Regions from separate parts of the Homo sapiens genome. Here region 1 is linked to region 2. Evidence: fine-mapped expression QTL. Tissue or cell type: monocytes. Region 2 holds a variant in brackets; the other region holds the start of a gene. All regions are shown on one strand. Distances are from middle to middle.

Region 1 (5,150 bases), 200 kb after region 2:
TTTGCGATTTTTCCAAATCATTTCTGAATTTGTCTGAAATTGTTACATGTAAATATAAAATTTTTAAAACTTAATAAATAATACTTTTTTCTTCAAGTGTGAAAAACACTGGCAGAGAGCAAAAGGCCCTGATACACTCACTCCCATCACCATCAAGTGGTCATCTAGCCTTTGCCTGAGTAACTCCAGGGTCAACAATCTCTTTACTGCCCATACTGCCCAGGCAGCTAACTTGTTAGAAAGCTTTTTTTTAATTTTTTTTTGAGACGGAGTCTCGCTCTGTCGCCCAGGCTGGAGTGCAGTGGCGCGATCTCGGCTCACTGCAAGCTCCGCTTCCCGGGTTCACGCCATTCTCCTACCTCAGCCTCCCAAGTAGCTGGTACTACAGGCGCCCGCCACCACGCCCGGCTAATTTTTTTTGTGTTTTTAGTAGAGACGGGGCTTCACTGTGTTAGCCAGGATGGTCTCAATCTCCTGACCTCGTAATCCGCCCCCCTCAGCCTCCCAAAGTACTGCAATTACAGGCGTGAGCCACCTCGCCTGGTCTTTTTTTTTTTTTTTTTTTTTTTTTTTTTTGAGGCGGAGTTTCGCTTTTGTTGCCCAGGCTGGAGTGCAATGGCTTGATCTCGGCTCACCACAAACTTCTCCTCCCGGGTTCAAGCGATTCTCCTGCCTCAGCCTCCGGAGTAGCTGGGATTACAGGCACGTGCGACCACGCCCGGCTAATTTTGTATTTTAGTAGAGATGGGGTTTCTCCATGTTGGTCAGGCTGGTCTCGAACTCCCGACCTCAGGTGATCCGCCTGCCTCAGCCTCCCAAAGTGCTGGGATTACAGGCATGAGCCACTGCACCTGGCCAGAAAGCTTTTTCTTTACACTGAGCCATAACTCGCCTCCCAACAACTCGCTTGCATCGGTTGTTCTGTCCTCCTAAGAGATTCTAATGTGATTCAATCCCTCTACCACCAATAGCTCTTCGGAAATTTGAAGGAAGCTACCACATCCTCCCCACTCCCAGTCGTCATTTCTCCGGACTCAGGAGTCCCAGGTCCTTCCTTTGGCCATCCCTCAAGGCATGGCTTTGAGTTCCCTCCTGTCTCTTGATTGTACTTATTTTATCTAATGATGCCCAGAACTAAGCACAGCCCTCTCGGAGAGGCCCAAGAGGAGCAGAAAGGAGCCAAAAGTAAAATCATCACTTTTGATCTAGACAGAATCTAGACAGCCTACTTCTTCTGTCAACAAACCCTAAGCTTCAATTTGCTCCTTCTTTAATATTCACATTATACCATTCACTCCTGTTGAGCTTAGCAATCAACTAAAAGCACCCAAGTCTTTTGCATAAGCCCCAAATTTACCTTCTGTGTTTGTACCGTCTTCACTCTCTCAGGAGTCAGAGCGCTCATTTGGCCCCACCCCAATTCTCCAAAGCTAAATCCCACAGATGGAAGCGTATCTGTTATAGAGACACCGCTGGAATAGTCTCCCTACCCTCCCACCCACTAAAAAACAGAAACGAAGTCTTTGTCTCAATACATGGTCTCTTATCCTTACCCTTTCCTTGAATGGGGCTTCATTTTAAAGTGTGTCTGGGGGAAGGACTGGAAGAAAACGCAGTTTCACAGGCCATCTCCAAAATCTGACCTAAAAGCCAACTGTTGCCTGGCCTCAATAAAGCCTGAGCAGTGTGGTGCCCTGATCTCTTTCCTTCTCCATTCCTCCCCCAAGTGGGCTCCAACTGGAGGTTGTGGAGATGAGTGCTGCTGGGCTCTGCTCACTCAGTCCCTTTGCCTTTGTGTGAGTAGTGACAGATGAGGCTGAGAAGGAAAACGTGGCAGGGTGAGAATAAACCTGATATTGTTCAAAGCATCTGACATCAAACATATCTCTCAAGAAGACCTACTGGAATCCCTCTAGCCACACGAACAAGGAAACGACAGAGAACCATTTCTACAGAAAGTTCCAGGCGGCCTCCCTGGGTATTTTTAACATCAGGACTCGGTGGAGGGGAGAGTCATTAAGCAAGGGAAACCCCGTAAAACAGAACATGTGAAAATGACCAAGAGAGGTGGGCTGGGAACCAGGCAGGGCGAGGCTACAGAAAAGGGAAGCTGTCACGGGACCCTGGTGGTGAGGGGCGACCTCTCTCTCCCTAAGGGCGCTGGGGGAGGGGAGGGAGGAGGACCACCAAGTCTGGAGCGCGGCGAGAAGGAAACAGCCCACCTACCTCGTCCAGGTCTGCTCCATTTTCCAGGCTCTTTCCTTAGTCTCAGGACGCTCCTCACCCGGGAGGGGAAGCAGCCTGGGAAAATGAGAAGCCTTGCCCACGAATCTCCAGCGCAAAAGGCAGCAGCTTTTTCCTCCCCAGCTCCTTTCTGCGTCGGCGGCGAAGAGAGAGCTCTGCTCCCTGCTTTTTTAGAAAATGGATTTGACGTGGCCGAACCTGCGGCTAGCCGTGCGACCCGCACAAGGGAGGGACTGTTCTCAGTAGGAGGCTGGACTCAGAGCGGCGCGGCGCCCGGGGCTGTTTCGTGAGCTGGAGCCAGCGGCTGCCCGGGCCGCGGTGCGCGCACTCTCCAGGCTGAGACACGACTGGCTGGCACGAGTTGCTCGGCACCAGCTGAGCTGTCAACCGCGAGCGGAGGCGGGGCTCCCGACAACCAGTGTGCTGGGGCAGAATCGGCCCAGGTTACACGCCCCCTGAACCACCCTCGCGTCTCCCCGACCCCTCTCTCGCTGGCTCAGATGAATGATGACGGCAGAGGGCAGAGAGCTTAGAGGACGCGGTACCAAGCCCCGTCCCTCGCCCATCCCAACGAAGGTCTTAGAATACAATCAACCAACTACAGGAAGAATTTGTAGAGGAGGTTTTCTTGTGTGTCTGCATCGCCCCACCCACAGGTAACCCCAGAGCCAGAGATGGAGTCTAGGAAGGTTTAGGAGCAATCCCGGCTGAATGCAGATGTATACCCTACGTGGTCATGGAACACGATGTTGTCTTCCTAGAGATGTGACATGCCAGTTTCACCATTAATCCAGGGACAGGACCCTTCATCAGGAAGGGAAGCATCCCAACAAAACCTTACAGCCCTATTAGCTGCCTGTATCCCAGACATCTCCTGTTTTAGGGTATTCTACCTCCTCGTTTTTCAGTTTCGCCAGCAACTGGGCTCTACCAATAGCTTCAAGGAGGGAGAAGCTTCCTGACTCCCAGAACACTAGAAAAGCCTCAAGACAGTAGCCATCAGGACCTCGACACTCCCTTGTGACTGTTTTAAGATCATGGAAAAGGCCTCTTTGGAGATGGCATTGCCTCAGGCCCTGTACCATGTACTTATGTATCAAGATTTAAACAAGGCAGACATACTATAATTAGAGTGCTTGCCACCCTGAAGCTCCTTTTTAGCTTTCAAATAAGACCGTTTTATTAAATGACATAATCACTGTTATTATTAGCACTATCACTGACCTTTTTTTTTATCTGAAAAAGGCTTTATAGTGCCCACATGTGGCAATGTTAATTTCGTTGTACTTGTTTCAGAGATGATAAATTTGAGACCCCAAAAGGCCCAAAGTCTCTGCTAAGGTTCTGATACAGGCTGTGTTCTCCATTGGGTGGCCCCAGAGATATGTTCCCTGAATTTCTAAAGCTACGACCCACAAGACTTCTCCAGGATGAATTTATTCTTTCAGGCCTCCTAGGCATTTAACTCAGGAAGAACCTGGCATGCCTGGGTATTGGTGAGACTGTGGGGAGTCTGTGTTCTTGGGGGAACCTGTCATCTGTCTGTTATCTCTTGGATTGGTTCCCCTACATACTAGTACAAAGTAGGGGTGGGGAGGGGAGGATAACAAAACATTTGAAGGTTTAGCAGAACTGTCTAAAAAGCCCCTAGTCTAGACTCCTCCAACACTTGATTTATTGGTAGGACCACACTGCTCCAGAGCTCAAAATGTTACCAGGAAAAATTTCAAGGTCCAGTTTGATCTTAGACAAGGCTCACAGGCCACCTGTCTTGAAAAGAATATCCTGTTGCCTCTGATGGGGGGGAAGAAAAGGCAGGGAGAGTCAGATTCCCATCCTTCATACCAAAGTTGGGGCTATATTTAGCTTTGTCTCAAATCAAATTATGGGCTACCGAGTTGTGGAGAGGAACTCTGTCTACAGGCAGCTCACTGGATTCAAGAAATGATAGCACTAACTAGGTGAGCTGTGGGGTCTCAGAAGTGACGCTAGAAAATACGTTCATGTATTTTTAAAATAACTTTTTTCAAAAGTTTATAGCACATTCATTGTAAAAACATTTGAAAAATACAGAAAGTTATATAGATTACTCAGAATACCCAGGGATCTTCAATATTAAAAATGTGTTGCATTTTTTTCCCACTCTTTAAAAAATGCATCTTTTAATCCAAACACCAACTCTTTCTTACACACATGGGTATATTCTTGAGAAGAGAAATTTCCTTGTTGTTTTAAAAATTATACTTATTGTCAAAAGAACAATTTTTTTGCGTTAGATTTCAGAAGAAAAATATTCACCCATATAACCACTGCTACAGCACAAATGTTTAAATTTCTCCAAATTCCCTTTAGTCATTATCTATATATATTAAATATCTATTTACATAATTACGATTACAGCTTAGGTATATGTTTATATTCTCCTTCTTTCACTTAGTAAATATTTGTCCATGTTTTTAGGGAAAGTTCATAGTTATTATTCTAATGAGTGTACAATATTTTATAATATTAGTAGGACCATAGATTACTTAAAATATTCTACTATTGCATAGTTATGCTGTTTCTGATATTAGACTGTTATAAATAATGCCTTAATGAAGAGCTTTCTGCCTTTATCATTCTCCTTTTTTGAATTATGCTATGGTTGAATGTATGTATGCCTTCAAAATTCATACATTGGTACTTAACACCGAGTGTTATAGTACTACAGGGTGGGGCCTTTTAGGAATATGTCTTAGGAAGTGATAAGGCATGAACACTCCACTCTCATGAATGGGATTAGTGCTCTTAAAAAAGAGGTTGAAAGGATTGCTCTGGTCCCTTTTGTCCTCTGTCCCTCCAGCCATGTGAGGACACAGCATCTGTGGCAACAAGGAGCCATCTTGGGAGCAGAGAGCAAGCTCTTC
Region 2 (5,150 bases):
GTTTTTAGGGTTTTGAGTTTGTTGTTTGTTTTCTCAGCTTCTCATATTTGGAATACTGGAAATTCCTAAAGTGGAGAATGACAGAACGTGAATCACAGCTATGGTGAAGCCACAGGCTCTGGATGAAAAACCTAATCTGCCAGGGTTTGAAGTTAAACACATGAATCTTCTGTGCCTCCATTTCTATCTGTCCAATGGGCTAAATCAGAACACTTAGGTTGTCCAGTGTTTAAATGAGCAGTGCAGGAAAAGCGTGGAGCCAATGCCTGTCACGTAGTAATTGGTCAACACGCATGAGCTCCTATCAGCTCCATGGTCTCCAGCATTTCCATCAGGCTTTGATCTTTGAAATGTCCTTCTTGATATGAATGGATCATTCCTCAAACATTCTCTAACTGATGGCCATGAAATTGCTCCAATGTGTATTATTACAAATACAACTGCAGGGACCAGACTGACACATGTATCTGTCGTGCATCACTTGTTTATTTCTCCGTAGACACCTGGAGATGGAATTGTCAGACCAAAGTATTTATACATGTTTGATTTTGCTAATTTCTGTCTAAATTACTGTGAAAAGAAGATATAACATGTCATACTTTTAACATTTTTTGAGAATTATTTTTTTCTCCATCTTCTGGCCAAAACTGGGAAGTACTTGCCTACCACTTCCTCTGAACTCACTTTTGCCAACATTTGTGTAGTCATACAGTGGGATCACATTGTATGCAAGACCTCAAACTCAAATCCTTAAATGAAAGCGATTAACATGACTGTGTAAAAATTTATCTTCAAAATACAATGAATACATATATACACATACTTATATGGGAAAGGAATTATTTTATTTGGATACCTTATCAAAGTTATATATACTTGAAAATTTGTTTAGTAAAGTAGCAGTCCCCTTGTGTACTCCCAGAGTTTCATCACATAGAAGCAATTATTTCGTTATTTATCTCCTTATGTCTAAATAGATATTATTACTTTTTGATTTTCAAGTTTAGGCACTACCTCTCCTTCACATACTTGCTCATCACCACCACCCCCAAACACGCCTCTCACCACCTTACCCTCCAACACGTTTGTGTCCTCATTTGCTGGGTCAATTGCTACATTGTTATAACTTGTATATTTTATTCAGAGTTCAGTCACATTGGATATACATAGCAGGAATGAGAGGCCAGTATCTTCAGGGACTCTCTCTCAAGTAGATAAGCTTCAAAGATTTTTGCAATCTTTGGTCACCCTCCCCATCGTTTTCCTATTCCAGGTAAGTACTGGATCTGATGGGCCCAGCTCAGGTCAGGCACTCTCTCCTTGAGCAGGGGAGAGCGGGACATCTTCATGTGCAGTACCAGGAAGACACTGTCCAAAGAGGGACAGGTAGTTCTAAGACAGAAAAGTCTATCTGGGGTACAGGTAGGCAAAACAAGGACACACACACAAAAATTAGTCTGTTCTGTGAGGGGAGCATGCAGTAGAGGGTGGATTCAGAGTGGGAGGGGAGAGTTTTGAGAGATATGGGCCATGGATATCACTCTGTGGGCCGGAGCCACACAAGACGGTTGGGGTCTCTCAGGGGCAGGGAGCTGAGGAGAATCTGCCCTCCCCAACCTGGGAGACTGGTGAGGGGACTGTCCTGGTCACCAGACAGAAATGGGGTCTGGGCCAGGGCAGTTCTGGTGGGAAAGAAAGAACAGGACATCTCCTTAAGGAAAGGTCCTGAGTCAGGTCTTGGCAGGGAGGGAGGTTACCTTGTCCATTGGCAGCTGAAGATGGTTGGCCAGATGAGGGCACTGAAATCCATGTCCTCTAAACTTGTAGTTCAGTAAAAGAACGACAGCAGTAAAGGGTCTTTAGGAAGAGGAGGTGGAAGACCTGATTTGGGTTGGGGGCTCCAAGAAGAATGTCTGCCTTGCTGTGCAGAAGCCTCTGCACAACCTCCCTGGTCCCCTTGCTCAGTCTCCTGGCCAGACCCCTGTGAGCCCTGGAAGTGCACAGTCAGCTTAGCCAAGGCATCTCCAGCTGGGACTCATCCCTGGGCATTTCTGTGGCCTTGGGTGCCCTGGCCTCCTCCAGGCCCTGTCTTGCAGGCAATCGTCCTGCTAGGGAAGGGGGAAAGGAGGCTACTTGACAGTTAACTCTGAGTGGCTCCACAAGGTCCTGACTTAGCTCCTAGTCACTTGCAAACCTATATACCCCCATCTCATCCCCCAAACGATGAAAAGAAACTTTGCAGGACTCATGCCAGACAAATAGGGTGGGACCATTCTGCAGAGCCAAGTTCTCAGGACATCAATAAGAGATGGGAACCACCTGCTGGAAGGTGCCACAGTGGGAACTTTGGGGTCAGGGAGCAGTCACTGAACTGTCAGGGTGAATCCTGGCTCCTGGCCCTCACACACCCTTTCTCCCCCTCCCTCCTTCTCTCCTCCCTCCTGTCTGCTCTTTCCCCTCTCTCTCCTGAATCCCTCAGGTACCTTCCATGGGCCCTGACCCCTCCTTTTCAGAGGCTCCAAAGTGAGCCCTCAAAACACTTGGTAACCTTGGACATTTCCAAAACTGGAGAGACTTGACCACAGCATTTTTATGAGCTAGGAAGGTCCTCCAGAGCTCTTGCCTAAATTTTTCTGCTGATGAGAAGAGAACAAGAGTGTCCATCTGATCTGGTCCTAAGGCAACTGCTCCTTGGAGCAGAGTCTGGGCAGGAAGAAGGCGGTTGCCCAGGGCCCTGGACTTGCCCCTCCCAGCTGCTCTGCTCCTCTCCCCTTCACTGCGGGAGGCTGGCCAGGGATCAGGAACCTCTATTCTCCACAGATGCTGGGATTCCAGGCTCAAATCTAAATATTGGCTGATTTAGGAGGCTAAGGGAGGCAATTGGCTGGAGGGAGGTGTCAGGATTTGGGACAAGAGCAGCATCTAGTTGCCGTCCACAGAGACCCCAAGGACAGGAATCCACTGGTAGCTGGTCGGAGGGGATCCCATGAAAACAAAATCAAACGCGCGCTTTAGTACTGGACCCAAGATCAGGAGATGAAAAACTGCACTGTCCTAAGGGATGAAGGAATTAGGGAATCCCAGAAGTAAAGCTTTTCATATAGGTCATTTCTTCCAAAGAGATGTAGGGCAATGGCCCAATGATGTGAACAAAAGAAAACTCGGGGTCTAGGATTGAGGGGAGGCAGCCTTTTTAGTGGAGACCTGTGACCTGGAGGCCCAGGGTCACCCTGAGAGGGGAGGG[G/T]TCTTGCTGGTCGCTGGGTCCGGGACTCCAATTGCACACAGCCAGTGGCATGGAGGGTCTGTGACCATGATTGGGCAATTTCCCCCATTCTGCTTATAGAGCAATAGAGAGGAACCTCACTGGAATTATACAGAAAGGTCCCAGTGAGACTTGAACTCTGATCACTGTATTCAGAGTCCAAAGTGCTCACCATTACACCATGGAACCTCACACTAGCTTATAACTGGAGGTAACTGAGTTCATACTTAGCAGCCATAGTTCCCACACACCTATGTTAAGGCATTTCTTCTGATCCCTCAAGCAACACCAAGGAAGGTGGACCTGTGAGAGAGGAGTCATCCTCTTTCTCTCTGCCCTCTCCTTTGATCAACTTTTATCATTTCATTTGCACCTCAGAAAATGAGGCAAAATCCAGTTTGGGCTTAGGGCCAGAGAAGAGCCCTTGAGGCCTCCCTCATGGAAAACATACTCTCTCAGTTTACCAGAGTTTCCTGTACCAAGGGGAAATTTCTGCAAACCGTAGTGCTATATTCTTTTTGCCTTCCCTCTTTTCCCTTTGCCCAGGGAGGCCAGATGATTGTGAGAACAGGACTTGGGACTTCCTGGGTGCCTTTCCCCCTTCCTCCATGTGATAAATAATGGCTGACACCAAGCAAGTGGGATTGGGAGGCAGGGAATCTTTCATTTCCTTCTTCATATACTTCTATGCATTTGTTTGGTTGGTTTTGGCAAGATTTTCTAACCAGAAATGGAGATTTGTTGGATTTAAAATAAAAAGTAATCAGCCATGTTTTACATTTCTATAAAACACTCAAACCAGGCCATACTCCCCTGCTGTGCCTCAAAATCAACCATAAACTGTCGAGGTCAGGAGGCAGGGCCCTCACACTTAAGCACAGTGTGTTTCCTCAGAATTGGCCAAGTTGATGCCACTCCAATTTCTCAATATACCACAACCCATTAATTGCGGTTTTTAAAAGTGTACATGTATTTTTACCAAAACCCCAGGGCTTCAGTGTTCTCAGCACACAGAAAGACAATCATTGAGACATTGAGTATTGCTGAGGAAGAAGGCTTTAATCAGGTGCTGCAGCTGAGTAGACAGGAGTTGAGTCTCAAATCTGTCTCCCTGATTGACTCAAGTTAGGGGTTTATATAGCACAGAAGAAATGTAACTGTGTGTGGGAAGAGAGAAACTAGGGAGGGGTGAGGAAGCACTTGTGATGAGTGAGGGGACTGGCATCTCATTGTCTGGATGCTGTGATTGGCTGAGTTTCAGGTCTCTGATGCTTTTTGAGAGGACTGAGAGTCCTTTCCTGAGGAAGGAACTCAGATAAAACAAATATAATTTTCTTTTATAGAATGGCTTGACCTCAGGAGTTTGAAACCAGTCTGGGCAATATGGTGAAACCCTGTCTCTACCAAAATACAAAAAAAAAAAAAAAGAGGGTTGCTTCCAAGATGGCTGAATAGGAACAGCTCCGGTCTACAGCTTCAAGTGAGATAGACGCAGAAGACAGGTGATTTCTGCATTTCCAACTGAGGTACCTGGTTCATCTCACTGGGACTCGTTGAACAGTGGGTGCAGCCCATAGAGGATGAGCCAAAGCAGGGTGGGGTGTCACCTCACCTGGGAAGTGCAAGGGGTTGGGGGATTTCTTTTTCCTAGCCAAGGGAAGCTGTGAGTGACTGCACCTGGAGGAGCAGTACACTCCTGCTCAAATACTGTGCTTTTTTCCACTGTCTTTGCAACTGACAGACCAGGAGATTCCCTCTTGTGCCTGCCTCGGCAAGTCCCATGCCCATGGAGCCTTGCTTGCTGCTAGCACAGCAGTCTGAGATCAACCTGCGACATTGGAGCATGGCAGGGAGAGGGGGTTCTGCCACTGCTGAGGCTCGAGTACTT

Evidence for each region. PIP is the estimated chance that this variant, and not a neighbour inherited with it, causes the effect.
Region 1: it holds the start of PDE4DIP, and the variant in region 2 is fine-mapped to the expression of PDE4DIP in monocytes (TOPMed, PIP above 0.99).

The regions. Positions count from the first base shown.
Region 1 is chr1:148,841,871-148,847,020 of GRCh38, reverse strand. PDE4DIP (phosphodiesterase 4D interacting protein) reads right to left here and starts at 2,593. Exons shown (of 47, transcript NM_001395426.1): 1 at 2,227-2,593. The coding sequence starts at 2,246. RefSeq lists enhancers at 1,700-2,422, 2,423-3,144.
Region 2 is chr1:149,043,238-149,048,387 of GRCh38, reverse strand. No RefSeq gene overlaps it. Among named protein-coding and RNA genes, the nearest start is that of NBPF9, 58 kb to the left of the region's middle. The variant G/T (reference allele first, on the strand shown) is at 3,245.